Regions from separate parts of the Homo sapiens genome. Here regions 1, 3 and 4 are each linked to region 2. The links come from fine-mapping of genetic effects on gene expression. A gene starts in region 2. Each other region holds a variant in brackets. All regions are shown on one strand. Distances are from middle to middle.

Region 1 (7,495 bases), 1.0 Mb before region 2:
TTAAGAGAAATAGTATGGCTCTGTTTCCCAGGCTGGAGTGCAGTGGTGGGATCATAGCTCACTGTAGAAACTCGGGCTCAAGGGATCCTCCTGCCTCAGCCTCACAAGTAGCTGGGAGTAAAGGCACATGCCACTATGCCCGGCTGTTTTTAAATTTTTTGTACAGATGGAGTCTCACTCTATTGCCCAGGCTGTTCTTGAACTCCAAGGCTCAAGTGATCCTCCCACCTCAGCCTCCCAAAGTGCTGAGATTACAGTTATGAACCAATGCACCCAGAACTCAAAAAGGAATATTTATAAGGGAAAATATCTAATGTTCAAATTGTTATGTATAGAGCAGTTAACGGGAACTATCATTTAGGGTCTATGGGATTCTAGGACACTAGGTATGAAACAAATATGAGGAAGGTCAGAGAACAAGCTGACTTGATGATTAATGCTGAAGGTGCCGCAAGCTTGGTTTAAGTTTTCCTCCTCCCATCCTCCCTGATGAATTTGATAAAGTTTAAAGGGATGGTTTCACCGGGGGCTTTTTCCACTGACTGCAAGGAGGTGATCCCGCTTGGTAAATCTTCAGTAGGCCAAGCCTCTTACGTGGCTAGAATGATCCAGTCCATAAGGAAATGTCACCACCTGCTGTATTTTACACTTTGACCATCAAAGGGGTACAGGGTTTCCCCAGGGAGTTTGGTGGGATTTTAATTTTTTGTTTGTTTGTTTTGAGACAGTGTCTTGCTGAAGCGCAGTACCCAATTATAGCTCACAGCAGCCTCAAACTTTGGGGTTCAAGTGACTCTCCTGTCTCAGCCTCCTGAGTAGCTGAGACTGTAGGTACACACACTTCTCCTTGGTAATTAAAAATTTTTTATGGAGATGGGAGGGTCTCACTTCACGGCTCAGGGTGGTCTCCAATCTCGGGCTTCAAGCGATCCTCCCACTTTGGCCTCCCAAAATGTTGGGATTACAGGCGTGAGCCATGGCACCCGGCCTCCCAGGCTGTTGTTTGAAGGTCTTTGCAATCTCTAAGAGTTCTGCAGCAATTTATTCCCTGACAGTGAGAGTCTCATCCTTTGACCCCATTTTGCCGCAGTAGCTGAACGTTCACTTTTCTTTCCATAAGGGGGCGAGCTTGCCAGTGACCCTAATCCCTCTCCTCATCGATGACTTCTTTGTCATCAGAGCCTTCCTCTTCATAAATTCCCACGGAATCCAAGTTTTCACGTCCCAATCGGGCTTAGTTATGATAGCCACAGGCCCACACCAGCTGCCACAGCACCCCTGTCCCATGGAAACCGCCTGACTCTCTTCTCCCCAAGCGTCCTGTCCCAGGAGCCCCCATCATCTCTGCTCCCCCGGGCTCCAGGCCCTAGAGCCGCGCTGCTGCAGAGCCCGGTTCCCAGGGCTGCTCCCTCCATATATCCACATTCATCTCCAGCTCTCCACCCTCTCTCCAACCAGCCAGGCCCGGAGGTACTGCAGTGTCACTGAACGTGCGTCCCTCAGCTGCCACCTCCACCACGATCTGGAAATCTTTTAAATGCACTTAAGTTATCTTAGAATTTTCCTTCCCCACTTTATACATAAACATAGGAGGAGAGCAGGGACTCTGCTGGTGTCTTATTCACACAATGGGATTGAGGGTGTTTGTGTCATGGAACTGATCAATGGGGTGAGAAGTAGCTGAATAACCTGCAGGGGGCAGCAGAGCCCGAGGCCGGTGACTCAACGCTGAGGCCAGTGTGGAGCCTGCAAAGGAAGGGAAAGGAGCCTTTCCTGGGGGCTTCCGGGCAGCCCGCCCTCCCCTACAGGTGGCCTCCAATTGCTCAGAGCAGCTCCAGAAGGAGTGCGGATTCCGAGAAGCTGAAGAGCCCTGGAAAGCAGAAGACCCACATGCACACGTATGTGTGGGGGTTCTGTCCTTTCTGGTGTTGTACCTCTGGAGCCTGGGGCTGTCTTCTGGGCAGGGTTTGGGGTTTGACATGCATGGGGCCACTGGGGTCAGATTTGTAAGATACAGTGAATTTCTTTAAGTTTTTCTTTAAAGATTTAGCCTGCTAACTTCCTCGTCTTTTGTTCTCAAACTCAACTTTCCTGTTCCTCCTTGCCCCTAGTTACTTTAAAACAGCCTACCCCGTTCCCATCAGCTCTAATCAATAACTCACATCTGTTCCCTTGGTTACCTGTACCCATTGTTCCCCCAAAACTGCACATCTCACATGCTCCACCTCTGTACCTCACATCCCCCTCCCCTTCTATATTTAGAAAAATATGTACAAGCAGCCAATCGGGTCAGCTCAGACTGTGCGGTCCGACCCCAGCCCATGGGGGAGTAACACAGAGATAGGGACCGCATTAAGGATAAAAACCTCCTGGTCTCCTTTGTTCTCTGTGCTCTTGTGATCTTGATTGACGTGAGTGGCACCCTTCTGCAGTAGTAAATTGCCTTGCTGAGAGAATTAAAATTTTGCCTGAGTGCTGGTTTTACTTCACGGCACCAAGCTTTTATTCCGGGAGCATTTTATATCCAACAATTCTAGGGGATCGTCCGAGATCCCCATGCTCCTTTTGGAAGAGTTCTTCAGTCACCCTACCCTGGGGAGACGCGTCCCACTGCCCCATTGCGGTGGCCTCAGGGACAGGAGATCGAGACCCACCCATTTTGACGAATAAACCCGGACTCTCAGCAACGCGGGGAAGAGAGGCTTGCAATACCGCAGCGACCAGGTAAACTCTGTGCACAGACCAAGGTGGGAAACGTTGCAGGGGCAACAAAGTAATTCTTTGGTAGTCGGAGGGGTGTGTCAGGGCATTCTGGGGGTTGAAAGTGCATGAATGGTAACAAGCACTACTGCTGTGCGGAGCGAGTGAGTCCAATCTGCGGTTCTGTGGTCACCTCACACGGCTTAGGGCAGCCCTGCGGGGGTCCTGTCACAGGTTTATACGGACCTGCCATCAATGCTAAGAGGAACCTGAAACAAACCTGCGAGGGAAGCGGCCAGAGTGGATGAAGCGAAAGAAGGGTGCAAGGAACCTCCAGCAGGTGGAGCTAAAGGATAGTGGAATTGAGCCTTAGCCACACTTCCAGTGAGGGATAGGCAAAAGACCTCCTAATATGAGGGGTTGAGCCACAAGGAACCCCCCAAATAGGCAAGAGATCCTTAATTTGAGAGGCTGAGCCACAAGGAACCCCCAAAATAGGCAAGAGATCCTTAATATGAGGGGTTGAGCCACAGCAAGCCCCCCTAGGCAAGAGATTCCTATCACGAGGGATTGAGCCTAGCCAGGACCCAGTATAGGAAATATTACAAGCAAAAAAGACAAAGTTAGCAACAAAGATATCCCCCCTAATAGTCCCCTAGGTCTCATGTTAAAACATTAGAAAGATAATGAAAAGACTAAACATAAGAAAAAGCAATTAGTGATAAAATATTGCTGTTCCATTTAGACTCAAGAACGAATCCTTGAACCCTTAGTTTTCTGGCCAGAATTTAAGTCGAATGAGGGATGGATTTGTGAACTTCTAATAGAAAATGTTGCTAGTAGAAGACCTGCCTCCTGAGAAGAAACAAATTATGCCCTATGTTAGTTGCAAGGAGTTGTCCTTTCCCCTCCTCCAAGGATTGAAAGGAGCAAGTCAAAAACTAATATTTGGAGGAAAATGAGTTGTACATGTGCCCTATTAAGATAGAACCATCTTTAATGAAAAAGACAGTGAAGGAAGGGGCTTGGGGGATCCTAGCAAAAAGAACAACTCGCAAGATCCCCTAGACCATTCCCCACCTAATACCCAACCCTTCCCCTCAGGCATCGCCCAGTAAGTCTGTTCTTCCCCAGCCTAAGTCCCTCTCCCCTAAAGAACTCCAAGCTCCTAA[T/A]TCACCAGATGGCTTTTGCCAGGCTAGCAACATGAAGGATCTGCCGCAACATGTTGTCAGCGTTGTCTGGCCCATAGTGCACCCCTGCAGCGGCAAAGCCCATGCTCCTGCCCACTGGCTGGTCCAAGGTCCTGGCACTGTATTGACGGCAGCTCTGCATGACATGCGAGCCAGGCCCCAGCCTATGCCCCATGCAAACTACATTATAGGATATCTGCCTTACTTTGCTGAGGCTAAGTAATACGGGGCTTCAGCGATGGCTCCAAGCAGCCTGGCATCCCCGCAGCTAAGTTTCCTGAGCAAGAAGTAGATAATCTTTCAGCGGATATATCCACTAGCATTTATTATAGTCAGGCCAGTGTTAAAAGTGAAAATATCCACCAGAAAAGAACTCTGATTCTTTAAAGTCACCTATGTTAAAATGTACCACCAAAAAAGAATTACATGTGTATAAATATGAGGCTATTCTGTTAAAAATGATAGTTTAATGTTACTAGTAATTTGCTTAACCTAACAAGTTTCTTAACGAAAGATCCAAATCTAAAAAGGAAGCACACATGTTTAGATTTAACTGATTACCATACAAATGTCCGGCCAAACTTAAGAGAAACCCCCTTCAAAAATGATTAAAGGAAAAAGGATTCAACAGATGTTCAATAATAAATAGAGAAGTTCCTAGAGAAATAAAATTTAAAAATTGTTTAATAGTTTACCCAAATTTGTAAGCTGTTTGCACTTAGTCAAGCTTTAAAGTAACTGCAAAGGAACCATCTATACTAATCTATATTGATTCTAAATACACCTTTATCGTGGCTCATACATTTAGAAAATTTCAGACAATAATAAAGGTCAAAGCCTTGTTCATGAAGAGTTAATAACCCAAGTGTTAAATAACCTTCAGTTACCAGAAAAAAAAAAAAAGCTATTTTCCACGTCCCCAGGCACCAAAAATCCTATCTTTCAAGAGTTAAGAAAATAACCTAGCAAATCAGATAATCCGAACCAGCTGCCGTTTCTCCTGTAGGCACTGAAGGGAATTCAAATGTTATTTAAACCTCTTATGAAAGAAGTCCTATCCCACCTAAATTAGAGGACCCATTAAAGACCTCAAGCTATGTATAGCACAGTTAAAGTTTATATGTGTATGAAAATGTACATCCTTAGCCAAACAAGTCTAGAAACTTAGTTGCCATAACTCAAATGTCTTCTGTCTTCCTATTAATCCAAACTACCTCTCAAAGCAATCCACTGCCAACATTCCTACATACTTGGTTTATCTTCCACTTTCTCTTCCCTCAAAACTCACAATTTTCCAGTACAGGTGCGGCTCCTGGAGTTCCCAGTGCGTCAACACCGGCCTGAGGAGCTGGCCTAGTACTTCCCACCATTGAAACTGCAGTCTGGACAGCAGAGAAAGGATAGACCCATCACACCCGAGTCAAGAAAGCACCGCCACCCCCAAAGTCGTAGGCCATTATTCCAGGGGAAAACCCCCTCAAACTAAAGCTAAGAAAAATTTAACCTCTTACATCTATTCTATTACTCTTTCTTCTTTTCCCCTTCCAATGCTGACCACCTTGTCATTAATGTAACTCAATCAAACTCACCCCAAGTTATCACGTTTAATGCTATGTCTAGTCATACCCTGTAAAGATCTCCAAAGTCAAAGACAAGTCTCAGCCTCAGAAAAGTATCTCTGCCCCTTTAAGGTGAAAGGCCCCCCCTACCAAGACTCTTGTTCCTTAACAAATATAAGAAAACAAGTCTGTCATAGCTAGAATGATGTCCTATGGACAACCAAATGTCAAGGCTAGACCTCATCAGCAGGTGGCTGTATATCCTTAAAACCATACATTCATTTCACTAAAAAAAGCACCTCCCCAATTGCCAGTATAATCAATGTAATCCCATACAAATTTCCACCTCTACTGACCCTAAACCTACTTTAAGTCACTTCTATGGAACAGGAGCCAACTTGGCCAGCACAGACCTCATAAGATCTTTCGAAATGCGTTTTATTAATCCTTCATTCTCTTCACCCCCTTCCTTCTCTTCTCCTTCTAAGCTTTCTTCTAATCAGACTGCCACCTGTTTTCTACCTAATGATACTACTAAAGTAAATATTGTAGAAGTAAAAGATTTAAGACAAACCCTAGCAATTAAAACAGGATATCAAGATGTAAATACCTGGTTGGAATGGATTCAATATTCCGTCCGCACATTGAACAAAAGCAATTGTTACGCTTGTATGCATGGCAGACTAGAGGCCCAGACTGTTTCCTTTCCACTAGGATAGCCCTTCAGCCGACCAGGCATAGGCTGTATGGTAGCTCTTTTCCAAAATTCCACAGCCTGGGGCAACAAATCATGCCAAGCTCTCTCTCTGCTATATCCCGAAGTCCAACAACCTGCAGGCCAGCCCCCAAAGGCCATTCAGCTTCCTTCTCCTGACGTCAATTTCACCTCATGTCTCTCACGACGAGGGGAGAATCTGGCGTTCCTTAGAAGCTTAACAAGATGCAATAAGCTTAAGCCCTTCCAAAAACTTACCCATCAGTCTGCCCTTAGTCATCCTCAAGCAGATGTATGGTGGTATTGTAGTGGACCTTTACTGGATACTCTGCCAAGTAACTGGAGCGGCACTTGCGCTCTTGTCCAATTGGCGATCCCTTTCACACTGGCATTTCATCAACCAAAAAAAAAGAAAAGCCACAACACCAAAAAATAAGAGAAGCCCCTTATAAGTCTTTTGACTCTCAAGTTTACATAAAGGCCATTAGAGTCCCATGGGGAGTGCCTAACAAGTTCAAAACCTGAGACCAAATAACTGCAAGATTTAAACCCATATTTCCCCGAATAACTATTAATAAAAATGTAGCTTCGATAAATTACATCTATTATAATTAGCAGCAGTTTATGAATTACACCAAGGATCTTATCAAAAAACAGCTGACCAGTTAAGGCCTACTAGCCAAATAGCTTAAGAAAACAGAATCACTTGACTGGGCGCGGTGGCTCATGCCTGTAATCCCAGCACTTTGGGAGGCCAAGGTGGGCGGATCACAAGGTCAGGAGATCGAGACCATCCTGGCTAACATGGTGAAACCCCCGTCTCTACTAAAAAATACAAAAAAAGTATCCGGGCGTAGTGGCGGGCACCTGTAGTCCCAGCTACTGGGGAGGCTGAGGCAGGAGAATGGCGTGAACCCGGGAGGCAGAGCTTGCAGTGAGACAATATGGTGCCACTGCACTCCAGCCTGGGCCACGAAGTGAGACTCCATCTCAAAAAATAAAAACCAGAATGGCTCCAGACATGTTATTAGCCAAAAAAGGTGGAGTTTGTGTTATGATTAAAACCCAGTGTTGTACCTTCATTCCAAACAACACTGCCCCCAGTGAGAGCATAACAAAGGCCTTGCAAAGACTTACCGCTTTATCCAATGAATTAGCTAAAATTTCTGGAGTCAATGACCCTATTTCAAGATGGCTAGGAAAGTAGTTCAGTCAATAAAGAATCATAGCCTCAATACTTATTTCTTTTACAGTCGTAACAGGTGTACTTATTCTTGTTAGGCGTTGTGTCATACCATGCATCCGTAGGCTAATACAAAGGATTGTACGAA
Region 2 (7,495 bases):
TGTCACCCAGGCTGGAGTGCAGTGGAGTCATTATAGCTCACTGCAGTCTGAAACTCTGGGCTCAATTTATCCTCCTGCCTCAGCCTCCCAAGTTGCTTGGCTAATTTTTAATTTTGTAGAGATGAGGTCTTGCTATGTTTCCCAGGCTTGTCTTGGATGCCTGTCTTCAAATGATCCTCCTGCCTCAGCCTCCTAAGTAACTGGGATTACAGGAGTGAGGCACCACCTCTGGCACCCAAATGACTTACAGGTACCACTTCATTCACAATTTTTTAAGTAGATGTCAGTATCCCCATTTTTCAGATGAGTAGACCAAGGCTCAGGTGAAGTTATACATCACACAGCAAAACCCAGGGTTTGAACCCAGGTCTGTTCACTGATCATGTGATTATAGCTCCCAAACAGACCTGGTCTCTACCGCTGACTTGAACTCAGCCATGGCCACACCAGTCACCCTGTCTGCAGAGAAGGAGCTCTCCAACCCTCAACCTTGAGACTCACCATCTCCAAATTTGCTGAACTTGGCAAAGCTCTGGAAAACAGCCCCGGCCTGGGATGTGAGTGTGATGCTGCTGTTCCAGGGTTCTTGGCTAACGTGGTGGCCCTTGACCACATTCTCCAAGTCGGGGAATTCCTGGGCAAAGATCCCTTCCAGCTGGTAGTTATAGACCCAGGGGTAGGTGTAGGTCAGCTGCTTGCCTGGAGGACAAGGGGAGGAGGAAATGCAAGATCGTTCCAGGTTCTGGTCAGTAAACCCAGGACTCATCCTGTGTCCCTGACTCGACTTACCCATCTTCGAGAACTGAGCGAAGGGAAAAGACACACAGAGCAGGGTCTGCCCGTAGGTACAGGCGCTATGAGGCCAGCTGTATGCAGCAGAGGAGGCCGGTGGAGGGAAGTTAGGTACACTGTGGACCAGCCAGAAGCCCCCATCGTGGTCAAGGAGCAGGACACCTGGACCAAAAGAAGGCATTAGGGGAGGTCGGGCGCAGTGGCTCACGCCTGTAATCCCAGCACTTTGGGAGACCGAGACACACAGATCACCTGAGGTCAGGAGTTAGAAATCAGCCTGGCCAACATGGCGAAACCCCATCTCTACTAAAAATACAAAAATTAGCTGAGCGTGGTGGTGGACGCCTGTAATCCCAGCTACTCAGGAGGCTGAGGCAGGAGAATCGCTTGAACCCAGGAGGTGGAGGTTGCAGTGAGCTGAGATCCACCACTGCACTCCAGCCTGGGCCACAGAGCAAAATTTCATCTCAAACATAAGTAAGTAAGTAAGTAAATAAATAAATAAATAAATAAATAAATAAAAATTTAAAAAAAGAAGGCAGGCCCCACGCAGTGTAATCCCAGCACTTTGGGAAGCCGAGGAGGGCGGATCACCTGAGGTCGGGAGTTCAAGACCAGCCTGGCCAACATGGAGAAACCTCATCACTACTAAAAATACAACATTAGCCGGGCATGGTGGTGCATGCCTGTAATCCCAGCTACTCGGGAGGCTGATGCAGGAGAATCACTTGAACCCAGGAGGCGGAGGTTGCAGTGAGCCGAGATTGCACCATTGCACTCCAGCCTGGGTAGCAAGAGCAAAACTCCTTCTCAAAAAAAAAAAAAAAAAAAAGGCAATTAGAGGGTATTGCTCCAGGCCTCCCAGCAAGCTCATCTGCAATCAGGAACACCCTCAGTTTGCAGCGGGGCTTAGAGAGGGTGCCAGCAGTGTTAGAACCACAGCTGAGCTCAGTTTTTGCAGGCATAAATTCTTATAGTCCAGAATAACGCCAAGAGTAATGTAAGGTAGGGAAACAGGCCAGGTGTGGCGGCTCATGCCGGTAATCGCAGCACATTAAGAGGCCAAGGTGGGTGGATTGCTTGAACCAGGACTTAGAGACCAGCCTAGGCAACATGGCAAAAGCCCACTCTACAAAAATACAAAAAGTAGGCCAGGTGTGGTGGCTCACGCCTGTAATCCCAGCACTTTGGGAGGCCAAGGCAGGTGGATCACCTGAGGTCAGGAGTTCAATATCAGCCTGTCCAACCTGGTAAAACCCCATCTCTACTAAAACATACAACATTTAGCTGGGCATGGTGGCGCACACCTGTAATCCCAGCTACTCCAGAGGCTGAGGCAGAAGAATCGCTTGAACTGGGGAGATGGAGATTGCAGTGAGCTGAGATTGCACCACCGAACTCCAGCCTGGGTGATGGAGAGAGAGTGCCGCAAAAAAAAAAAAAAAAAAAAAAAGCCAGGCGTGGTGGGGGGTACCGGCAGGCCCAGTACTTGGGAGGCTGAGGTAGGAGGATCACCTGAGCCCTGGGAGGTCAAGGCTGCAGTGAGCTGTGATACTGCACTCCAGCCTAGGTGACTGGGTGAGACCTTGTCTAAAAGAAAATAAAATAGGGGAAATAGATGCCCAAGGTCTGACAGGGGAGATCTCCCACCCCACTATGGAGGTCAGGGGTTAGCTTGGAAAAATGCATAGGAACTCGGCTGGGCAGGGTGGCTCATTCCTGTAATCCCAGCACTTTGGGAGGCCAAGGCGGGTAGATCACTTGAGGTAGAAACCAGGAGTTCGAGACCAGCCTGGCCAACATGGTGAAACCTCGTCTGTACTAAAAATATGAAAATTAGCCTGGTGTGATGGTGCGCCTTTAATACCAGCTACTTGGGAGGCTGAGACAGGAGAATTGCTTCAACCCCAGAGGCAGAGATTGCAGTGAGCCAAGATTGTGCCACTGCACTCCAGCTTGGGTGACAGAGCGAACTCCCACCGTCTCAAAAACAAAGAAAAAAAAAAGTTGGGGGGAATAGATGCCCAGGGTCTGACAGTGCAGATCTCCCCGACCACCCCATGCACGTCAGGGGTTACCTTGGAAAAATGGGACCCGAGTCTCTCCCCAGCCCCCAATCCAGGCCTCACCCTTCGTGTGCCCACGCATGGAAGAGTCCTGAGCCTTGCTGGGTTGAGGCGGTTGGTCATTGTAGAGCAGGAAGGCGAGCTGCGGGCGGATAAACGGAGGCAACGTGAAATTCCTCCCAGGCAGGGCAGCCCTAGAGTTTCGCCCCTAGTTGGCCCGGGGCCCCCTTCACCTGGCTGGTGTTGCTCCGGTACAGCGGCTGCAGGCTTCGGCCCACGGCCCCCTCCGGGCTGTTGATGAGTGCCCTGCCGTCCCGCCAGCCTCCGGAGCTCTCGTCCAGATACTTGTACTGCAGCCCTCTCTGCGCCGCCTCCCCGGACCCTCTAAGAGCTGGCAGCTTGTAGACCACGAACCTGGAGGTCGGAGAATGCACAGAAATAGGAGAGAGGGAAGAGAAGGCACCCCAGGGTTCCCCGAGGAGGTAGCCATCCCGGTTGAGTGACCGCAGCCGGACCCCGGGGCGATGGTAGGCCCCCCGCTGCGCACTCACCAGTCTACAGGCTGCCCGGAGTCCCCGTAGCAGGTCAGGGCCCCGGCGGGGACGCACAGCAGCGCTGCCAGCAGCAGCGGGATCATAGCTGCTATGGGGCTGAGATCCAGGAATCTGTGTCGGGACTGCGGGGCGCTGGGTTACATCAGAGGCCAGGACTGGCACCTGGCGCCTTTCACTTCCCTAAACTTGCCTGGGAACCGGGGCGGGGACATCACGAGGGTACAGACTCCTCCCCCGAGACGCGATGCTGCGTTTTGGAGAGGCAAAAGGCAACGCTGAGTCTGCCCAGACCACGCCCACGACGGGCCCGGCGCTCCAGCGTCTCCTGGAGCCTGGCCACCGTTCCTTTTCGTGGTAGCTAATCCCAGCCCACGCTCTTCTGTCTGACCCAACTCCCGCCCGGGTTTCTGGATCAGGCACAAGTTTGTATTTTATTTTTTATTCCAGCCCTACAACCTGGGTCCAACTCTTGGGACCTTTGTTCTTCCTCTTTTTTTTTTTTTTTTTTTTTTTTTTTTTTTGAGACGGAGTTTCACTCTTGTCGCCCAGGCTGGAGTGCAATGGCACGATCTCGGTTCACTGCAACCTCCGCCTTCCTGATTAAAGCGATTATCCTGCCTCAGCCTCCCGAGTAGCTGGGATTACAGGCGCCCGACACCACGCCCGGCTAATTTTTGTAGTTTTAGTAGAGACGGGGTTTTTCCATGTTGACTAGGCTGGTCTCGAACTCCTGACCTCGTGATCCACCAGCCTCGGCCCCCGAAAGTGCCAAGATTGCAGAAGTGAGCCACTGCGCCCCTTAAGAAGCATTTGTGTTCCAGTGTATCTTCCCCTTTTTCTTTCTTTTTTTTTTTCCTTCCTTTTTTTTTTTTTTTTTTCCCGGACAATATCTCGCTCTGTTGCCCAGGCCGGAGTGCAGTGGCGCAATCTTGGCTCACTGCAACCTCTGCCTCCCCAGCTCAAGTGATCCTCTCACCTCAGCCTCCCGAGTAGCTGGGATCACGGGCACATGCCACTATGCCCAGCTAATTTTTGTAGTTTTTTTTTTGAAACACGGTTTCACCATGTGGCTCAGGCTGAACTCCTGAGCTCAAGGGATCCACCTGTCTTGCCTCCCAAAGTGCTGGGATTACAGGCATGTAATCCACGCCACCCAGACTCTCCTTTTTCATTCTGCACGTTTTCTCCAGGATCCCCTGAGCTAGCAAAGAGGTGACTGTATGTTTGTTTTTTGTCGTTTTGAGACAGGATAATGGTTTCTCACCCAGGCTAGAATGCAGTGACTCCATCACAGTTCACTGCAGCCTCAACCTACTGGGCTCAAGAGATCTTCCCAGGTAGCTGGTACTACAGGCCTGTGCCACCACACCCAGATAATTGTTCATTGCAGAGATGAGGGTCTCACTATGTTGCCCAGGCTGCTCTGGAACTCCGGGGTTCAAGTGATTCTCCCACCTCAGCCTCAAAGGATCATGGCAGGGCAAAGGGCTATGGGAATCTGAGTACTGGCTTGAAACTGCCTTTGCAAAAATTATGACAGAAAATTATGTCAGTGAAAGAGCTCTGACCTAACCAACTCCATCTTGCCTTTAATCTCCAAACTGCCCTTGCTTGGTCATTCCTGGAGTGGGGTCAAGCTAACTTTTTTTTTTTTTTTGACACGTTGTCTCACTCTGTCGCCCAGGCTGGAGTCCAGTGGTGTGATCTCAGCTCACTGCAACATCCGCCTCCTAGGTTCAAGCAATCCTCCTGCCTCAGCTTCCTGAGTAGCTGGGATTACAGGCATGCGCCACATGCCCAGCTAATTTTTGTATTTTTGGTAGAGACTGGGTTTCACCATTTTTGGTAGAGATGGGGTTTCACCTTGGGGCTCAGGCTGGTGTCGAACTCCTGGGCTCAAGTGATCTGCCCGCCTCAGCCTGCCAAATTGCTGGGATTAAAGAGGGAGCCACCATGCCTGGCCCCAAGCTAATTTTGGGAGGAATTTAGTTTATAGCTTAAATGATAATAGCCCTTCCCCAAACTAAACTGCCTTTGTAGAAATAATGAAAGGGCACTAGGTTAGGAGGATGAGAGGAGCCTGAATTCTGCTAAACTGTAGGTGTAGTAGTTAAATTATGACCAGCCATTTTTCCGGCCGGGTGCGGTGCCTCACGCCTGTAATCCCAGCACTTTGAGAGGCCGAGGCTGGCAGATTACCTGAGGTCAGGATTTCGAAACCAGCCTGGCCAGCATTTCGAAACCCCATCTCTTCTAAAAATACAAAAATTAGCCCGGCATGGTGGCATGTGCCTGTAATCCTAGCTACCTGGTAGGCTGACACAGGAGAATCACTTGAACCCAGGAGGCAGAGGTTGCAGTGAGCCAAGATGGAACAACTGCACTCCAGCCTGGGCAAGAGCAAGACTCCATCTCAAAAACAAAAACAAAGATGGCCAGCCATTATTCTGGAGGTCACAAGGTTTGCAACTTCCCCAGTTATTTCTGCAAATAACATGACTATTGCAAAACCTAACGCTGGCCTTTTTAGATGTCTTTTTAGGCTTTTTGCATATCTGACAACTGGATGACTCCACCCAGACTAGCGACTCTATGGTCCCCACCCAGAAGCTGACTCAGCAACTGTTTTCCACAGCTCCAGGATTGCAGCAAGGCACCCATTCCCTAGCCCTCCTGCCCACCAAACTGTTCTTGAATAACCCTAGCCTCTGAATTTTCAGGGAGGCTGATTCAAGTAATAAAACTCCCATCTCCCATTTAGCTGGATGTATGTGGATTAAACTCTCTCTATTGCAATCCCTCTGTCTCGATAAATTGGCTCTATCTGGACAGTGGGCAAGATGAACCCCCTGGGCAGTCATAGGCTGTGAACTCTTAAATCCAGGGAGATGTTTGCTGTCAATGTCCGCAGGGTTCAAGGCAGAAGACAAGGACAGTGTAGCCTGAACTGGGTGGGAAAAGAGAGGACAGCAAGGCCTCCAGTGCCCAAGGGGGCTTGTTGGAGTTGAGGGGTGTCACTGTAGTTTAGGAGATGAGGGTGTGTAAGGCCCTCTAATATGACCTCTAGGTTTACAGCCTCCTGCCATCTTCCAGCCTCCAAAACCCAAAAATTCAGGCCAACGCTGAAGCTTTATCTGGGAGGGGCATTTTTATAGGACCCATAACCATTGACAGTTAATATCAGCCACAATAAGGGACCTTCAGGAGCCGCTTTCTAGACCCAGGGTCTCTGGGAAGCCTCATCCCACACCCTCTCCTGCTGTCCAGGGCCATCTGGGAGCTGGTCTGAGTGTCCACTGAGTCCGTTTATTTGGCGGTCTGTCTCACTGGGTTTGCACGACAGTTTGGACATCTCTGTGTGGCTCCCTGTGGCTGAAGGCTTGTCGGATTTTCCGTAAGAGGCTCCCCCAGGGCTGTCTATGGGTCCGTGTTTGATATTTGGGTGGATCTTTGGGAACGCGAGTCCAGGAGAGGGTCCATTCGTGGGAAAACCACCCAGCATTGTGTCACGCGCGTCCGTGTGAAGAGACCACCAAACAGGCTTCTTGTCCCATCCCCAGTCACTAGGAGAGTCCAAGTGCCAGGGCAGGGCTCAAAGGTGGCGCTTCATGTGCAAGGCCAGGTGGTCAGAGCGCGAAAAAGCACGTGGGCAGAGCTGGCAGCGGAAGGGGCGCTGCCCCGTGTGTTTCCGGTAGTGGCGGGTCAGCTCGTCCGAGCGCGCGAATCTCCAGCCGCAGCCTTCCCACGTGCAGGCGTATGGCTTCTCCCCTAGGGGACAAGGAAGCCATAAGCGCCACTGTCTGCCCAGTCATGTCCCCGGGTCCCCTGCATCTGGCCACACCCCTTTACTCAGCCTGGGCTGGGACTAGGATGAACAAAGTGAGGCCCCTAGGGCACAAAATTTAAGGAGGCACTCACTCTCAGAGGCCAGCCAAGTCCAAGTCCCGCCCTCTGCAACCCTTCTTCCCCTGTAACTACAGCGGGCGCCGCGCCCTTTCTCATGTCCGGGGCCCCGCCCCCTCACCTGTGTGCGTGCGCAGATGCGCCTTCAGGTGGGAGCTCTTGGTGTAGCTCTTGCCGCAA
Region 3 (7,353 bases), 75 kb before region 2:
TGGTCTCGGAGACCAGACCAGCCTGGCCCACACAGCAAGACTCCATCTCTACAAAAAATATTTTAAAATTAGCCTGACTTGATGGCCCAGCACTTTGGGAGGCCGAGGCGGGAGGACTGCTTGAGCCCAGGAATTCAAGACCAGCCTGGGCAACATGGAGAGACCCCCTACTCTACAAAAATAAATAAATAAATAAAAATAAAAAATAAATTAGCCTGCCATGGTGGCATGCGCCTGTAGTCCCAGCTACTCAAGAGGCTGATACAGGAGGACCATTTGTGCCAAGGAGTTTGAAGCTGCAGTGAGCCATGATTATGCCCTTGCATTCCAACCTGGGTAACAGAGCAAGATCTTGTCTCAAAATAAATAAATTAAATAAATAAACAAACTGATCATAATAAATTGGTTTGTATATGCTAGCACAGCACCGGGAGATTTACTTACCTTCATTATGTCAATTATGCCATTTATCACTTGACAACCCTGCTGTCAGGTGGCATTGTGCCTTCTAGGTAGGGCCATGGTCACACCCCTGAAGACAGAAGTCAGCTTCAAATGGCGGGCACCAAGGATGTTGTAGGACACTCACAACTGGGCAGGCTGGCACAGCCTGGAAGTGTCAGGTTGTAGTTCCTCTGGCCCACTTACCCCGTATATGAGCTTGGAAGGTTGGCTTGCTGTCTCTGGGTCTTGGTTTCCCCACCTGAGACTCGTGGAAATATTAAATGAGGCCAGGCATGGTGGCTGGCTCACACCTGTAATCCCAGCACTTTGGGAGGCTGAGATGGGAGTATCACTTGAGCCCAGGAGTTCCAGACCAGCCTGGGCAACATGGTGAAACACCGTCTCTGCAAAAAATACAAAAAATTAGCCAGGCACAGTGGCATGTGCCTGTAGTCCCAGCTACTTGGTAGGCCGAGGTAGGAGGATTGCTTGAGCCCAGGAGGTTGAGGCTGCAGTGAGCTGTGACTGCGCCACTGCACTCCAGCCTGGGCGACAGAGCGAGACCCTGTCTCAAAAAAAAAAAAAAAAAAAAAAAAAAAGCTTAAATGAGATAATCTGTGGCAGGGTGTCTGGCATAGAAGCAGAGTCTAGCGAATATGTGCTTCTCTTATTCGTTAGTATCTTTATCTTTCTCCCTCTCTGGGGGAGGGGATTGGGAGTAGGCCCCCTCCACGTAGGTCTTCACCTCTGCCCTCCTTCTCTAGAAGTCGAGGACTCAATCCTTGGCCCGTGGGGAAAGTGGCGGTGTCTCTGCGACCTGGGCAAGCAGGAGCGCAGCCGCGAGGTAGTGGGCACAGCGCCGGGCCCGGTTTTCATGGACCCGGAGAAGCTGATCCAGTTACGGCCCTGCCGGCAACGGGATTGTCCATCCTGCAAGCCCTTCGACTGCGACTGGAGGCTCTGAGCCCGGGTGAGAGAGCAGGGCCGGGGCAAGTTGCGGGGCCCAGGGTGGGCGCGGAGGGAGGATGTGCGGTGCGGGGCGGGTATGAAGCGAGTTTGAGGAAGGGAGAACTGGGGCTCCAAGTCTTGAGTGACTTGAGGCTGATTTGGTTAGGGGGAAGCTGAGTCAGGAGCCGTGAGCCCCGCTGATATCTAGGGAGAAAAGGAGAAAAGTGGAGGGGGCGCCGGGCGCCGGGGCTCACGCCTGTAATTCCAGCATTTTGGGAGGCCGAGGCAGGCGGATCTCTTGAGTCCTGGAGTTCAAGATTAGTCTGGGCAATATCGTTGAGATCACCTCTCCATAAAAATTTTTAAAATTAGGCCGGGCGCGGTGGCTCACGCCCGCAATCCCAGCACTTTGGGAGGCCAAGGCAGGCGGATCACAAGGTCAGGAGATCGAGACCATCCTGGCTAAAACGGTGAAACCCCGTCTCTACTAAAAATATAAAAAATTAGCTGGGCGCGGTGGCGGGCGCCTGTAGTCCCAGCTACTCGGGAGGCTGAGGCAGGAGAATGGCATGAACCCGGGAGGCGGAGCCTGCAGTGAGCCGAGATCGCGCCACTGCACTCCAGCCTGGGCGACAGAGCGAGACTCTGTCTCAAAAAAAACCAACCAAACAAACAAACAAACAAAAACATTTAAGTTAGATGAGCGTGGCGGCACATGCCTGTGGTCCCAGCTACTCGGTACGATGGGGAGGAAGGATCGCTTGAGCCTGGGAGGCAAAGGTTACAATAAGCCGAGATCGCTACACTGCTATCCAGCCTGGGCAACAGAGTAACATCCTGTCTCAAAAAAAAAAAAAAAAAAAAAAAAAAAAAAAAAGTGGAGGGGGAGGCGAAGAGGAGTAAAAGGAGATAAAGAGACAATGAACTAGGACCCTGAGGAAGGGGCATGAGCCTGGTAAGGGGCGGGAACCCACAGGCAGAGGACATGAGCCCCAGTGAGCCCAGGGAATAGAAGTGGTGGATGCCAGGCACTGTGGCTGGCTCAGGCTTGTAATCCCAACACTTTGGGAGGCTGAGGCGACCGGATCGCTTGAGCCCAGGAGTTTGAAGCCAGCCTGGGCAACATAATGAGACCCCGTCTCTACAAAAAATACCAAAAATAGTCGGGCATGGTGGTGTGGTGTGCACCTGTAGTCCAGCTGCTTGGGAGACTGAGGTGGGAGGATCGCGTCAGCCCAGGAGGTGGAGGTTGCAGTGAGCCAAGATCGCGCCACTGCACTCCAGCCTGGACAACAGAGAGAGACCCTGTCTAAAAAAAAAAGAAGGCCGGGTGCGGTGGCTCACGCCTGCAATCCCAACACTTTGGGAGGCCGAGGCGGGCGGATCACAAGGTCAGGAAATCGAGACCAACCTGGCTAACACGGTGAAACCCCATCTCTACTAAAAAGTACAAAAAATTAGCCGGGTGTGGTGGCGGGCGCCTGTAGTCCCAGCTATTCGGGAGACTGAGGCAGGAGAATGGCGTGAACCCGGGACGCGGAGCTTGCAGTGAGCGGAGATGGCGCCATTGCACTCCAGCCTGGGCGACAAGAGCGAGACTCTGTCTCAAAAAAAAAAAAAAGAAAAAAAAAAAGTGGGTCGAGGGGTGGGGGTGGGGACATTCATTCTAAGTTGGGAGGAATGAGCTTCTATAGGGAGCAGAGACCCTGAGCAGGAGTCCACCGAGGTCTGTGATCTCCAACGGGGGTGGGGAAGGCTTGGCCTGAATGAGACAGAGGTTAGGAAGCACAGATCTTGCACGGAGTGGAGGTGGGCCGAAGGGAGCAACCAAGAGAGGGAGTTTGGGGACTCCAAATCCAAAAGCCTGGGTTTAGTGGAAGCGGGGCTACCTGGTCCAGGGGACTTAGAATGTGTACAGAAGCAGGGACCGCAAGTACAGGGCCTGAATCCAAGTGGCAGTTGGGGACCCAGTGATGCGGTGACCCGTGTCCTGGGAGTGGGGTGATATTTGACTCTCTAGTTCCCCGTTAGGCTGGGTCTTCGAAGCTACGTCTCAGTTTCCCTCTTATTTCCCCCTCTTCCCACCGGGCCACGCAGGCGGGGCCCCAGAGACCGTGAAGCAGAGCTTGCAAAGTGACCCCGTCCACCGAATTCCCCAAGCTGAGTGTTCGGCCATAGCCCTTCGGGACTACAATTCCCAGGAGGGCGCACGGCAGCGACGTCGGCGTCGGCTGCGTAAGCGTCCACGGCGGCGGGAGCGCCAGGGGCGTGTTCTGCCCGCGGATTGGCCGGAAGCAGGCGCCGCTTCGAGGCCCGCGGAAAACGCGCGCCGAGACCCGCTCCTGCAGTATTAGTTCTTGCAGCTGGTGGTGGCGGCTGAGGCGGCATGGATCTCAGCGAGCTGGAGAGAGACAATACAGGCCGCTGTCGCCTGAGTTCGCCTGTGCCCGCGGTGTGCCGCAAGGAGCCTTGCGTCCTGGGCGTCGATGAGGCGGGCAGGGGCCCCGTGCTGGGTGCGCCCCTAGGGCCAGGGAGGGGAGGGGCGTGGTACGGAGGATGCGGGAAACGGGAGTCGGGATTGCACTGCACCAAGGGAGGGGATGTGGTCGTGGTGATGGCACCTAAAGAAGCAGTGATGATAGAACAGGGATGAATGGCAACTTTCACGGGCTCAGTGATTGGACCCCGGCTGCCAGAAAACTGACACCCCTTCTCCCCAGGCCCCATGGTCTACGCCATCTGTTATTGTCCCCTGCCTCGCCTGGCAGATCTGGAGGCGCTGAAAGTGGCAGGTGAGCCCGAGGTGTGCGTCTGGGGAAGGGATTCCTGGGTATGTGCAGGGGCAGGTGAGAACTGAAAGGGGAGGGCAGGAACTGGGAGAACCAGCTGTTCCCCTTCTCTTCCAAACCTCCTCCCAGACTCAAAGACCCTATTGGAGAGCGAGCGGGAAAGGCTGTTTGCGAAAATGGAGGACACGGACTTTGTCGGCTGGGCGCTGGATGTGCTGTCTCCAAACCTCATCTCTACCAGCATGCTTGGGCGGTGAGGGGTCCCCGGGAGGGGCAGCCAGCATGGGCTGACCAAGCTTTGTTCCTAGAATGAGATTAACTGGGCTCTGTTCCCCACCACAGGGTCAAATACAACCTGAACTCCCTGTCACATGATACAGCCACTGGGCTTATACAGTATGCATTGGACCAGGGCGTGAACGTCACCCAGGTGAGTTAACTGTAAGTTGTCCCCATTTGGTCATCTCAGGATAAAATGGGGACAAAACAGGAGTTCGAGACTGCAGTGAGCCATGATCATGCCACAGCACTCCATCCTGGGTGACAAAGGAAGCCCCCCAACTCAAAAATGGAGGCAGGGCGCAGTGGCTCACGCCTATAATCGCAGCACTTTGGGAAGCCGCGGCGGGTAGATCACCGGAGGTCAAGAGTTCGAGACCAGCCTGACCAACATGGTGAAACCCCGTCTCTACTAAAAATACAAAAATTAGCTGGACGTGGTGGCAGGCGCCTGTAATCCTAGCTACTCAGGAGGCTGAGACAGGAGAATCGCTTGAACCCAGGAGGCAGAAGTTGCAGTGAGCCAAGATTGTGCCATTGCACTCCAACCCGGGCAACAGAGCAAGACCCTGTCTCAAAAAAATAAAAAATAAAAAATAAACTAAAAATGGGAGACCAGGCGCAGTGGCTCACGGCTGTAATCCCAGCGTTTCAGGAGGCTGAGGCAGGCAGAT[C/G]ACCTGAGGTCAGGAGTTGAAGACCATCCTGGCCAACATGGTGAAACCTCATCTCTACTGAAAATACAAAAAATTAGCCCAGCATGGTGGCGGGTGCCTGTAATCCCACCTATTGGTGAGGCCGAGGCAGAAGAATTGCTCGAACCCGGGAGGCGGAGGTTGCAGTGAGGTGAGATCGCGCCATTGCACTCCAGCCTGGGGGACAGAGCGAAAAATAAAAATAAAAATAAAATAAAAAATAAATGTGGGCAAAAATGTGCAGTGTGCAGATTCAGCATCAGATACGTCTGGAGTGCCTCGGGCATATTCATTGCTACTGTTGATTTCGTGCTCCTGTTTCTGCCCTAAATGTGTGCCACACTGACGACCACAGTGTAGCCCCTAGTCCCGTCTCCATCTAATCTCTCCCTCATCCTAAAGGCTCAGTCTCCAGAACAAATCCTACATTGTCTACCTGTCACCTCTGTCCTAGCCCAGGACACCCCCCACTCCCTGGACACCTGCTGAGTGTCGTCTCTCGTCCCTCACCCTCCTATCCCCTCCAATCTGTTCCCCAAGCAGCAACAGAAGGTAGTCTTTTTGAAATGCACATCTCGACATTTAGTTTTCCGATCACAGTGGAAATTAAATCAGGAAAATTCACAGTCGAGTGGGGCAGAATTACATTAAATTACCAGAGAAAAACATAAATCAGCATTGCCTCGAATGCTCTCAATGAAAGAATGGACCGTTCTGAGAGAATAACAAGGCAAAATAACCTTGACGTAGGAATTGTATGCTGGGTATGGTGGCTCACGCCTGTAATCCCAGCACTTTGGGAAGCTGAGGTGAGCAAATTGGTTGAGGCTAGGAGTTCCAGACCAGCCTGGGCAACATAGCGAGACTCCATCTCCACAAAAAGAAGAAGAAAGAAAGGAATTATAGCAAGGTAGACCCTGCTGAGGAGGGACCTGAGGACCAGGCCCAAATGCAGAGCTGGCGATACAGTAACTGGTGTAGACAGACAAGGGCCCTACCCGTAGGCGTTCAGGGCCTAGCCTGGGCAGAAAGATGGTCAGCTGGAGGTTGGGCGCAGTAGCTCACGCCTGTAATCCCAGCACTTTGGGAGGCCGAGGCGGGCGGATCATCAGGTCAGGAGTTCGAGACCAGCCTGACCAACATGGTGAAACCCCATCTCTACTAAAAATAAAAAATAAAAAAATAAAACATGAAAGATGGTCAGCTGGTAAACAAAAAATAAAGGTTGTTTCTGAAAACAGTAGTGCTGTGGAGATACCACTTTCCCCCAGCAGCTCTTGGACCCTCTCTTCGGTGCTGCAGCCAAAGGCCCCCATGCATGGGCCCAGCATCATGAACCTGGTCCCAGCTCAGGGCCTTTGTACTGGCTGTTCTCACACCTAGAGCCCTCTTCCCCAGATCTCTGCACAGTTCACTTCCTCACCTCCTTCAAGCCTTTATTCACCACTACACCTAGCTAACTTTTTATTTTTTGTAGAAACAGGGTCTCCATATGTTGCCCAGGTTGGTCTCAACCACCTGCCCTCAAGCGATCCTCCCACTTCGGCTTCCTAAAGTGTTGGGATTACAGGCTTGTGCTAACGCACTCTACCAATTTTTTTCTAGTGTTTTCTGCCACCTCAGTTCCTAGAACAGTATGTGGCATGCAGTAGGTGCTAAATAAGTTAGAGTAAAAGCAGCGTGATAGAGAAAGCCTCTTCAGGAGGTGAGTTTTTTCTTTATTTTATTGTATTTATTTTATGTTTTTATAAAGATGGGGTCTCACTGTGTTGCCAAGCCTGGCCTCAAACTCCCAGGATCAAGCGATCCTCCCGCCTCAGCCTCCCAAAGTGCTGGGATCACAGGCCTGAACAACTTTGCCTGGTCTAGGAGGAGATGTTCGAGTTGAAATCCCTGATTGATCCATCCTGGGGACGTGCTGGAGAAGAGGATTCTGGGTAGCAGGAAGAACGTGCCAGGGCTGTGAGGCTAGAGCATTGGTACAGTTGTTTGTTCAATTAATATGTGTCTGTTGCTGTGGCAGGTATTCGTGGACACCGTAGGGATGCCAGAGACATACCAGGCGCGGCTGCAGCAAAGTTTTCCCGGGATTGAGGTGACGGTCAAGGCCAAAGCAGATGCCCTCTACCCGGTGGTTAGTGCTGCCAGCATCTGTGCCAAGGTCAGTACCCTACTAGCCATGGCTGGCTTCCACCATCCCA
Region 4 (7,495 bases), 26 kb before region 2:
TGAGACAGAGTCTCGCTGTGTCACCCAGGCTGGAGTGCAGTGGTGTGATCTTGGCTCACTGCAACTTCTGCCTCCCAGGTTCAAGGGATTCTCCTGCTTCAGCCTCCCAAGTAGCTGGGATTACAGGCACCTGCCACCACGCCTGGCTCATTTTGCGTTTTTAGTGGAGATGGGGTTTCACCATGTTGGCCAGGCTGGTTTCAAACTTTTGACCTCAAGTGATCCACCCACCTCAGCCTCCCAAAGTGCTGGGATTACAGGCATGAGCCACCGTGCCCAGCCTCATTATTTTTACTGTGTGGCTTGGGCTTCAGTCTCCTCACCTGTAAGATGGGACAGTAGCAGCAGTATGTACTCTGAGGGGCTGAGAGAGGGGCCGGGCTGAGGCAGAGTGCCTATGAGCCCTGTCCCTCTGTGTCCCCTGCCACAGGCCTATGAACGCTCTGAGAGCTTGGAGGTGGCCTTCGTTACTCAGCTGGTGAAGAAGTTGCTTATTATCATCTCACGCCCTGCGAGGCTGCTGGAGTGCCTGGTGAGGGGGCTGGGCATGGGTAGGGGTGGGTTGGTAGACCCTGGGAGCCTGTGGTGAGCCCACTCCTGCCCTGCCTCAGGAATTCAACCCCGAGGAGTTCTACCACCTGCTGGAGGCGGCCGAAGGACACGCCAAGGAGGGCCACCTTGTGAAGACGGACATCCCCCGCTACATCATCCGCCAGCTGGGCCTCACCCGTGACCCCTTTCCAGGTGCCGGCTGGTGGGCGCAGGGGGACTGGGGGTGAGCAGGCCCAGAACCCAGCTCGTGCTCACTCTCAGTCCCTCCCTAGATGTGGTGCATCTGGAGGAACAGGACAGTGGTGGTTCCAACACCCCTGAGCAAGACGATCTCTCTGAGGTAAGGCTGGGTGGCTAAGCGGTCAGTACCCTGGTTCCTGGGAGGGCAGGGTGGGGCTCATCTCCGGCTTCTTTGCCCTCAGGCTTTGTGGATCTCTTGGTCCTACACTCTGAGCCTCAGTTTTCCCATCCATAAAATGGGATTAATAATAGCTCTTCCAGAGCCTGGCATGCTGGCTCATGCCTGTAATCCCAGCACTTTGGGAGGCCAAGGTGGGCAGATCACCTGAGGTCGGGAGTTCGAGACCAGCCTAACCAACATGGAGAAACCCCGTTTCTACTTAAAAAAAAAAAAAATGCAAAAATTAGCCAAGCCTGGTGGCACATGCCTCTAATCCCAGCTACTTGTGAGGCTGAGGCAGAAGAATCACTTGAATCCAGGAGGCAGAGATTGCTGTGAACTGAGATTACACCACTGCACTCCAGCCTGGGCAACAAGAGCGAAACTGTCTCAAAAAATAAAATAAAATAAAATAAAATAATTGCTCTTCCCCTGTGACCTCTTTGTCATGTTAAAATCCATGAAACATAAAATTTAATTTACTTTTTTAACCATTTTATTTTATTTTTATTTATTTATTTATTTATTTTTTGAGATGGAGTTTTGCTCTTGTTGCCCAGGCTGGAGTGCAATGGCACTATCTCAGCTCACCACAACCTCCATCTCCTGGGTTCAAGCAATTCTCCTGCCTCAGCCTCCCGAGTAGCTGGGATTACAGGCATGTAACACCACACCCGGCTAATTTTGTATTTTTAGTAGAGACTAAAATTTCTCCATGTTGGTCAGGCTGGTTGCAAACTCCCAATCTCAGTTGATCTGCCCATCTCGGCCTCCCAAAGTGCTGGGATTACAGGCATGAGCCACCGCGCCCGGCCTTTTTAACCATTTTAAAATGAACAATTCGGGGCCGGGTGCAGTGGCTTAGGCCTGTAATCCCAGCACTTTGGGAGGCCAAGGCAGGAGGATTGTTTGTGCTAAGGCATTTGAGACCAGCCTGGGCAGCATAAAAAATCAGCTGGGCGTGGTGGTGCACCCCTGTAGTCCCAGCTACTCGGGAGGCTGAGGTGGGAGGATCCTATGAGCCCAGGAAGTCAAGGCTTCAGTAAGCCATGATCACACCACTGCACTCCAGCCTGGGCAACAGGGTGAGACCCTGTCTTGAAAAATGAAATTAAAAATAATAAAGAATAGGCCAGGTGCAATGGCTTATGCATGTAATCCTAGTACTTTGGGAGGCCAAGATGGGTGGATCACTTGAGGTCAGGAATTCGAAACCAGCCTGGCCAACATGGTGAAACCCCATTTCCACTAAAAATACAAAAAAATTAGTTGGGCGTGGTGGCACATGCCTGTAATCCCAGCTACTTGGAAGGCTGAGGCAGGAGAATTGCTTGAACCCGGGAGGTGGAGGTTGGTGTGAGCCAAGATCCCACCACTGCACTCCAGCCTGGGCAACAGAGCGAGACTCTGTCTCAAAATAATAATAATAATAATAATAATAATAATAATAATAATGATTAATAGTAATAAATAAACAATTCTGCAGCATTTAGTAATTCACCATGCTGTACAGCCATTAGATCTATGTAGTTGCAGAACTTTTTTATCACCCCCAAAGGGAAACCTCACACCCATTACACACTCCCTCCTCATTCCTCCCTCCCTGCAGTCCCTGGCAACCACTAATCTATTTTCTCTCTCTGTGGAATTGCTTTTTCTGGATATTTCTTTTTTTTTTTTTTTTTGAGACAGAATTTCACTCTTGTTGCCCAGGCTGGAGTGCAATGGCGTGATCTCGGCTCACTGCAACCTCCGCCTCCCAGGTTCAAGCAATTCTCCTCCCTCAGCCTCCTGAGTAGCTGGGATTATAGGCATGCGCCACCACACCTGGCTAATTTTGTATTTTTAGTAAAGACAGGGTTTCACCATGTTGGTCAGGCTGGTCTCGAACTCCTGACCTCAGGTGATCTGCCTGCCTTGGC[C/T]TCCCAAAGTGCTGCGATTACAGGCGTGAGCCACATGCCTGGCCTTTTTCTGGATATTTCCTATAAATGGGATCGTATGCTCTGTGGCCTCTTATGACTGGCTTATTTCACTTAACATAACGTTTCTGAGGTTTATCCATGTTGTAGCTTGTGTCACTGCTTCATTCATTTTTATAGCCGAGTAATATTCCATTGAATGGTAGATGCATTCATCCACTGGTGAACATTGGGTTGTCCATCTTTCATCTGTTGTAAATAGTGCTCTTATGAATGTGGGTGTACAAATATTTGGCTGGACAACTGCTTTGAGTTATTTAGGATATACGTCTAGAGGTGGAATTTCTTGGTCATATGGTAGCTCTATGTTTAACTTATAGAGGAATCCTGCATGGGCTTTCGAGCAAGCTAACTGGCTGTATGTGTTAATGGCAGCTCAGCATGGGGAAAATTGCCAATTCTATTCCCAGGCCAGCCACACTTTGGCAGATGTTCCAGATGTCTAGTGGAGAGTCCTACCCCAATGGCCACACATGTGTTTTCTCTGAACTGCCTAGTATTTTTCAAAAATTTGGGCTGGGCCTGATGGCTCACGGCTGTAATCCCAGCACTTTGAGAGACTGCGGCGGGTGGATCACTTGAGGTCAGGAAGTCGAGACCAGCCTGGCCAACATGGTGAAACCCTGTCTCTACTAAAAAAATACATAAAATTAGCCAGGTGTGGTGGTGCCCACCCGTAATCCCAGCTACTTGGGAGGCTGAGGCAGGAGAACTGCTGGAACCAGGGAGACAAAGATTGCAGTGAGCCGATATCAAACCACTGCACTCCAGCCTGGGTGAGAGAGTGAGACTCCATCTTGAAAAAAATAAAAATAGATAAATAAAAGAAGCAAAATATAAAAATTGAAAGATTTTTGCTTCAAAATCTGGGTTTGGGCCTTCTCTTGAAAAATCAGAAGTTCTAGGGCTGGGTGTAGTGGCTCATGCCTGTAGTCCCAGCACTTTGGGAAGCCAAGGTGGCAGGATTGCTTGAGCCCAGGAGTTTGAAACCAGTCTGGACAACATAGCAAGACCCTGTCTCTACTTAAAAAAAAATAGAAGAAGAAGAAGTTCTAATAATACTGTGGTGGAACCAGCTGAGTGGGGGTGGTCCTGTGATATTGGGTACCTGCCCCTTCGTCATCCATGGCCTCCACCCTGGTCTACTGGCCCCTGAAGACGCTTAAGTTTGTAATCTTTATTTCAAATTGTGTCTATACAGTCACACAGATATATACACATACCTTTCCTTTATGTATATATTTAAAAGGAATCTCACAATATATGCCATTTGTTTAATTTTTTGAATAGGTAATGGAATGACATCACTCAAAATCTAAAACTCTAAAAAAAGGTATTTATCTCTCATTGTTTGTAGGATTCTGTTATTCCTTTTAATCAAACTTGTTAATTGAGTGATTCAAATCTTCCATCTCCCTATTCATTTATCTTGCCTGATTAATCTAATAGTTTCTGAGAGAAATGTGAAACCTTATTTTAAGCAAATTCTCCTTGTAATTCTGTCAATTTTTTTTTTTTTTTTGCCATTTTGGTTTTTATTTGATTATAGGTAAGAGTTCCATACAATAGTGTGCGAAGTATTGCAAACAATAAAGGAAAAATACAGCATAAGATACCTCTTACACTCTGCCCAATTCTGTCAATTTTTATGTCAGATATTTTTAGGCTACATTCTTTGGAGCATATAAGTTCAATATTTTTATATATCATAGATCTTTTTATGTAATATCTATGTAATAAATCTCTTTGTCCCTAAGAAAAATCAAAATAATTTTCAAGAAAGATATACAGTGAAAAAAATCTTACTCCTACCTTTTTTCCCCATTGCCCTATAGCCCTGAAATATGATTACATAGTTTTATTTTGCCACTTTTTTTTTTTTTTTTAGACAAAGTTCCACTCTTGTTGCCCAGGCTGGAGTGCAACAGTGTGATCTCGGCTCACTGCAACCTCTGCTTCCTGGGTTCAAGTGGTTCTCCTGCTTCAGCCTTCCAAGCAGCTGGGATTATAGGCAACCACCACCACGCCTGGCTAAGTTTTTGTATTTTTAATAGAGACAGGGTTTCACCATGTTGGCCAGGCTGGTCTCGAACTCCTGACCTTCAGGTGATCCACTTGCCTTGGCCTCCCAAAGTGCTGGGATTGCAGGTGTGAGCCACCACACCTGGCCTTTGCCACATTTTTTTGCACATAAACGTACAATACATATTGCCTATTGCATTTTTACACTTAATAAAATAGAGGACTTTCTAAATCCATAGACAGAGAGTTTCCTCATTATTTCTAACAGTGGCACAATGTTTCTTTATCTAACTACCCCACATGTGTTTGTTTGGCTAATTTAACGTATGGATTATTATTTCCAATCTCACAATGAGCAAGATAGTAGATATACCATTTTTCACATGTGCAAGTATATCTGTAGCATAAATTCAAAAGTAAAATTGCTGAGTCAAAGGGAACATGTATTTGTAATTCTGATCTGTATCAAACAGTAATTTACACTCCCAACAGCAAAGTATATATGTTCACCTACATATTTGCCCATAGAGGATATCAGGTTTTGGAGTTTTTTCTCCCAATCTGCTAGGTGAAAAATGGTATTTTGTGGTAGTTATAATTTGCCTTTCTGTTATTGTAAGTGAGATTGAGAATTTTTTTTTTTTGAGATGGAGTTTTGCTCTTGTTGCCCAGGCTGGAGTGCAATGCCACGATCTCGGCTCACCACAACCTCTGCCTCCTGGGTTCAAGCGATTCTCCTGCCTCAGCCTCCTGAGTAGCTGGGATTACAGGCATGTGCCATCATGCCCAGCTGATTTTGTATTTTTAGTATAGATGGGGTTTCTCCATGTTGGCCAGGCTTGTCTCGAGCTCCTGACCTCAGGTGATCCACCAGCCTCAGCCTCCCAGGTGATCCGCCCGCCTTGGCCTCCCAAAGTGCTGGGGTTACAAGCGTAAGCCACTGCACCTGGCCAAGAATCTTTTTTTTTTTTTTGAGACAGAGTCTCGCTCTGTCACCCAGGCTGAAGTGCAGTGGCATGATCTCTGCTCACTGCAAGCTCTGCCTCCCGGGTTCACGCCATTCTCCTGCCTCAGCCTCCCAAGTAGCTGGGACTACATGTGCCCGCCACCATGCCTGGCTAATTGTTTCGTATTTTCAGTAGAGATGGGGTTTCACAGTGTTAGCCAGGATGGTCTCGATCTCCTGACCGCATGATCCGCCCACCTTGGCCTTCCAAAGTGCTGTGATTACAGGCGTGAGCCACCGCTCCAGGCCCGAATCTTTTAGTATGTTTAAGAGCTGTAACTCTGGCTGGGTACAGTGGCTCATGCCTGTAGTCCCTACTCTTTGGGAGGCCAAGGCAGGCAGATTGCTTCAGCCTAGGAGTTCAAGAGCAGCCTGGGCAAGATGGCAAAACCAAAATACTAAAATTAGCCTGGCATGGTGGCATGTGCCTGTGGTCCCAGCTACCTGGGAGGCTGAGGCAGGAGAATCACTTGAGCCCTAGAGGTGGAGGCTGCAGTGAGCACCACTACACTCCAGTCTGAATATCAGAGTGAGAACCTATCTCAAAAAAAAAAAAAAAAAAAAAAAAAAAAAAAGCTCTAACTGTAATTTACTTACCTCACCCACTTTTTTCTCTTCAATTGTTAGGCTTTTGTTATTGATTTTTGGGAACTCTTTATATATTTATATATTAGGATGACTATTTTGTTGGTTTCCTGCTATCTTTTCTAGTGGAAGAAGATGAGAATATGTCTTCAGAGTCAGTCTTGGGTTCAAGTCCTAACTTTCTCTTTCATTATGGCACTTGGATGAAGGACTCTTTCATTCTGTGCCTCAGTTTCCCCATGTGTAAAATGAAATTAAAAGCATCCTGCTCTCATGATGATGATGGTGGTGTGGTCTCCATCTTTTTCCTGAAGGGCCGCAGCAGCAAGGCCAAGAAACCGCCGGGGGAGAATGACTTCGATACCATCAAGCTCATAAGCAACGGTGCCTACGGGTGAGCCACCCGGGGCTCTGGCGGGGGGAGGGTGGCGGAGGCCGGGTGTCTCGGAGGTGACGGCCGGTCCTCGCTCTCTCCCCCTGCAGCGCTGTCTACCTGGTGCGGCACCGCGACACGCGGCAGCGCTTTGCCATGAAAAAGATCAACAAGCAGAACTTGATCCTCCGCAACCAGATCCAGCAGGCCTTTGTGGAGCGCGATATCCTCACCTTCGCCGAGAACCCGTTTGTGGTCGGCATGTTCTGCTCCTTTGAGACTCGGCGCCACCTCTGCATGGTCATGGAATATGTGGAAGGTGTGGCTGCCTGCGGGGCTGCAGGGAAGATGGGGCCGTGCTCACTGGTCAGGGCTGCGGGGTGGCCTGCCTGAGCCGCAGTCTCCATATTGATTAGTCGGCCTGTATGTTTATCCATCTATTTATTTCTCCAGTCATTGATTTGTCCATCCATTCTACCTATATATTTATTCAGTCATCTATTGGTTTATTTGTTTTTCATTTCATTCAGCATAAAAACATTCAGTCTGACCCATTATCCATCCATCTATCCTTCTAT

What was found. PIP is the estimated chance that this variant, and not a neighbour inherited with it, causes the effect.
Region 1: its variant is fine-mapped to the expression of DNASE2 in whole blood (TOPMed, PIP above 0.99).
Region 3: its variant is fine-mapped to the expression of DNASE2 in whole blood (INTERVAL, PIP above 0.99).
Region 4: its variant is fine-mapped to the expression of DNASE2 in whole blood (TOPMed, PIP above 0.99).

The regions. Positions count from the first base shown.
Region 1 is chr19:11,878,358-11,885,852 of GRCh38, forward strand. No RefSeq gene overlaps it. Among named protein-coding and RNA genes, the nearest start is that of ZNF69, 5.7 kb to the right of the region's middle. RefSeq lists an enhancer at 2,964-3,143. The variant T/A (reference allele first, on the strand shown) is at 3,873.
Region 2 is chr19:12,877,881-12,885,375 of GRCh38, forward strand. It overlaps DNASE2 (deoxyribonuclease 2, lysosomal), which reads right to left and starts at 3,569. Exons shown (of 6, transcript NM_001375.3): 1 at 3,410-3,569; 2 at 3,092-3,272; 3 at 2,922-3,000; 4 at 790-954; 5 at 502-699. The coding sequence starts at 3,495. It overlaps KLF1 (KLF transcription factor 1), which reads right to left. Exons shown (of 3, transcript NM_006563.5): 2 at 7,437-7,495; 3 at 6,542-7,180. The coding sequence ends at 7,005. RefSeq lists enhancers at 3,100-3,727, 3,387-3,496, 5,921-6,182, 7,055-7,495 and cis regulatory regions at 3,391-3,951, 4,691-5,191, 5,731-6,251, 7,131-7,495.
Region 3 is chr19:12,802,896-12,810,248 of GRCh38, forward strand. It overlaps RNASEH2A (ribonuclease H2 subunit A), which reads left to right and starts at 3,689. Exons shown (of 8, transcript NM_006397.3): 1 at 3,689-3,905; 2 at 4,113-4,184; 3 at 4,311-4,434; 4 at 4,524-4,611; 5 at 7,176-7,313. The coding sequence starts at 3,779. THSD8 (thrombospondin type 1 domain containing 8) reads left to right here. Exons shown (of 2, transcript NM_001386800.1): 2 at 1,209-1,494. The coding sequence ends at 1,408. RefSeq lists a cis regulatory region at 2,936-3,968 and enhancers at 3,413-3,542, 3,743-3,792. The variant C/G (reference allele first, on the strand shown) is at 5,135.
Region 4 is chr19:12,851,504-12,858,998 of GRCh38, forward strand. It overlaps MAST1 (microtubule associated serine/threonine kinase 1), which reads left to right. Exons shown (of 26, transcript NM_014975.3): 8 at 431-532; 9 at 612-744; 10 at 825-892; 11 at 6,859-6,938; 12 at 7,028-7,236. MIR6794 (microRNA 6794) reads left to right here and starts at 757; the gene lies at 757-824. RefSeq lists an enhancer at 686-1,186. The variant C/T (reference allele first, on the strand shown) is at 2,875.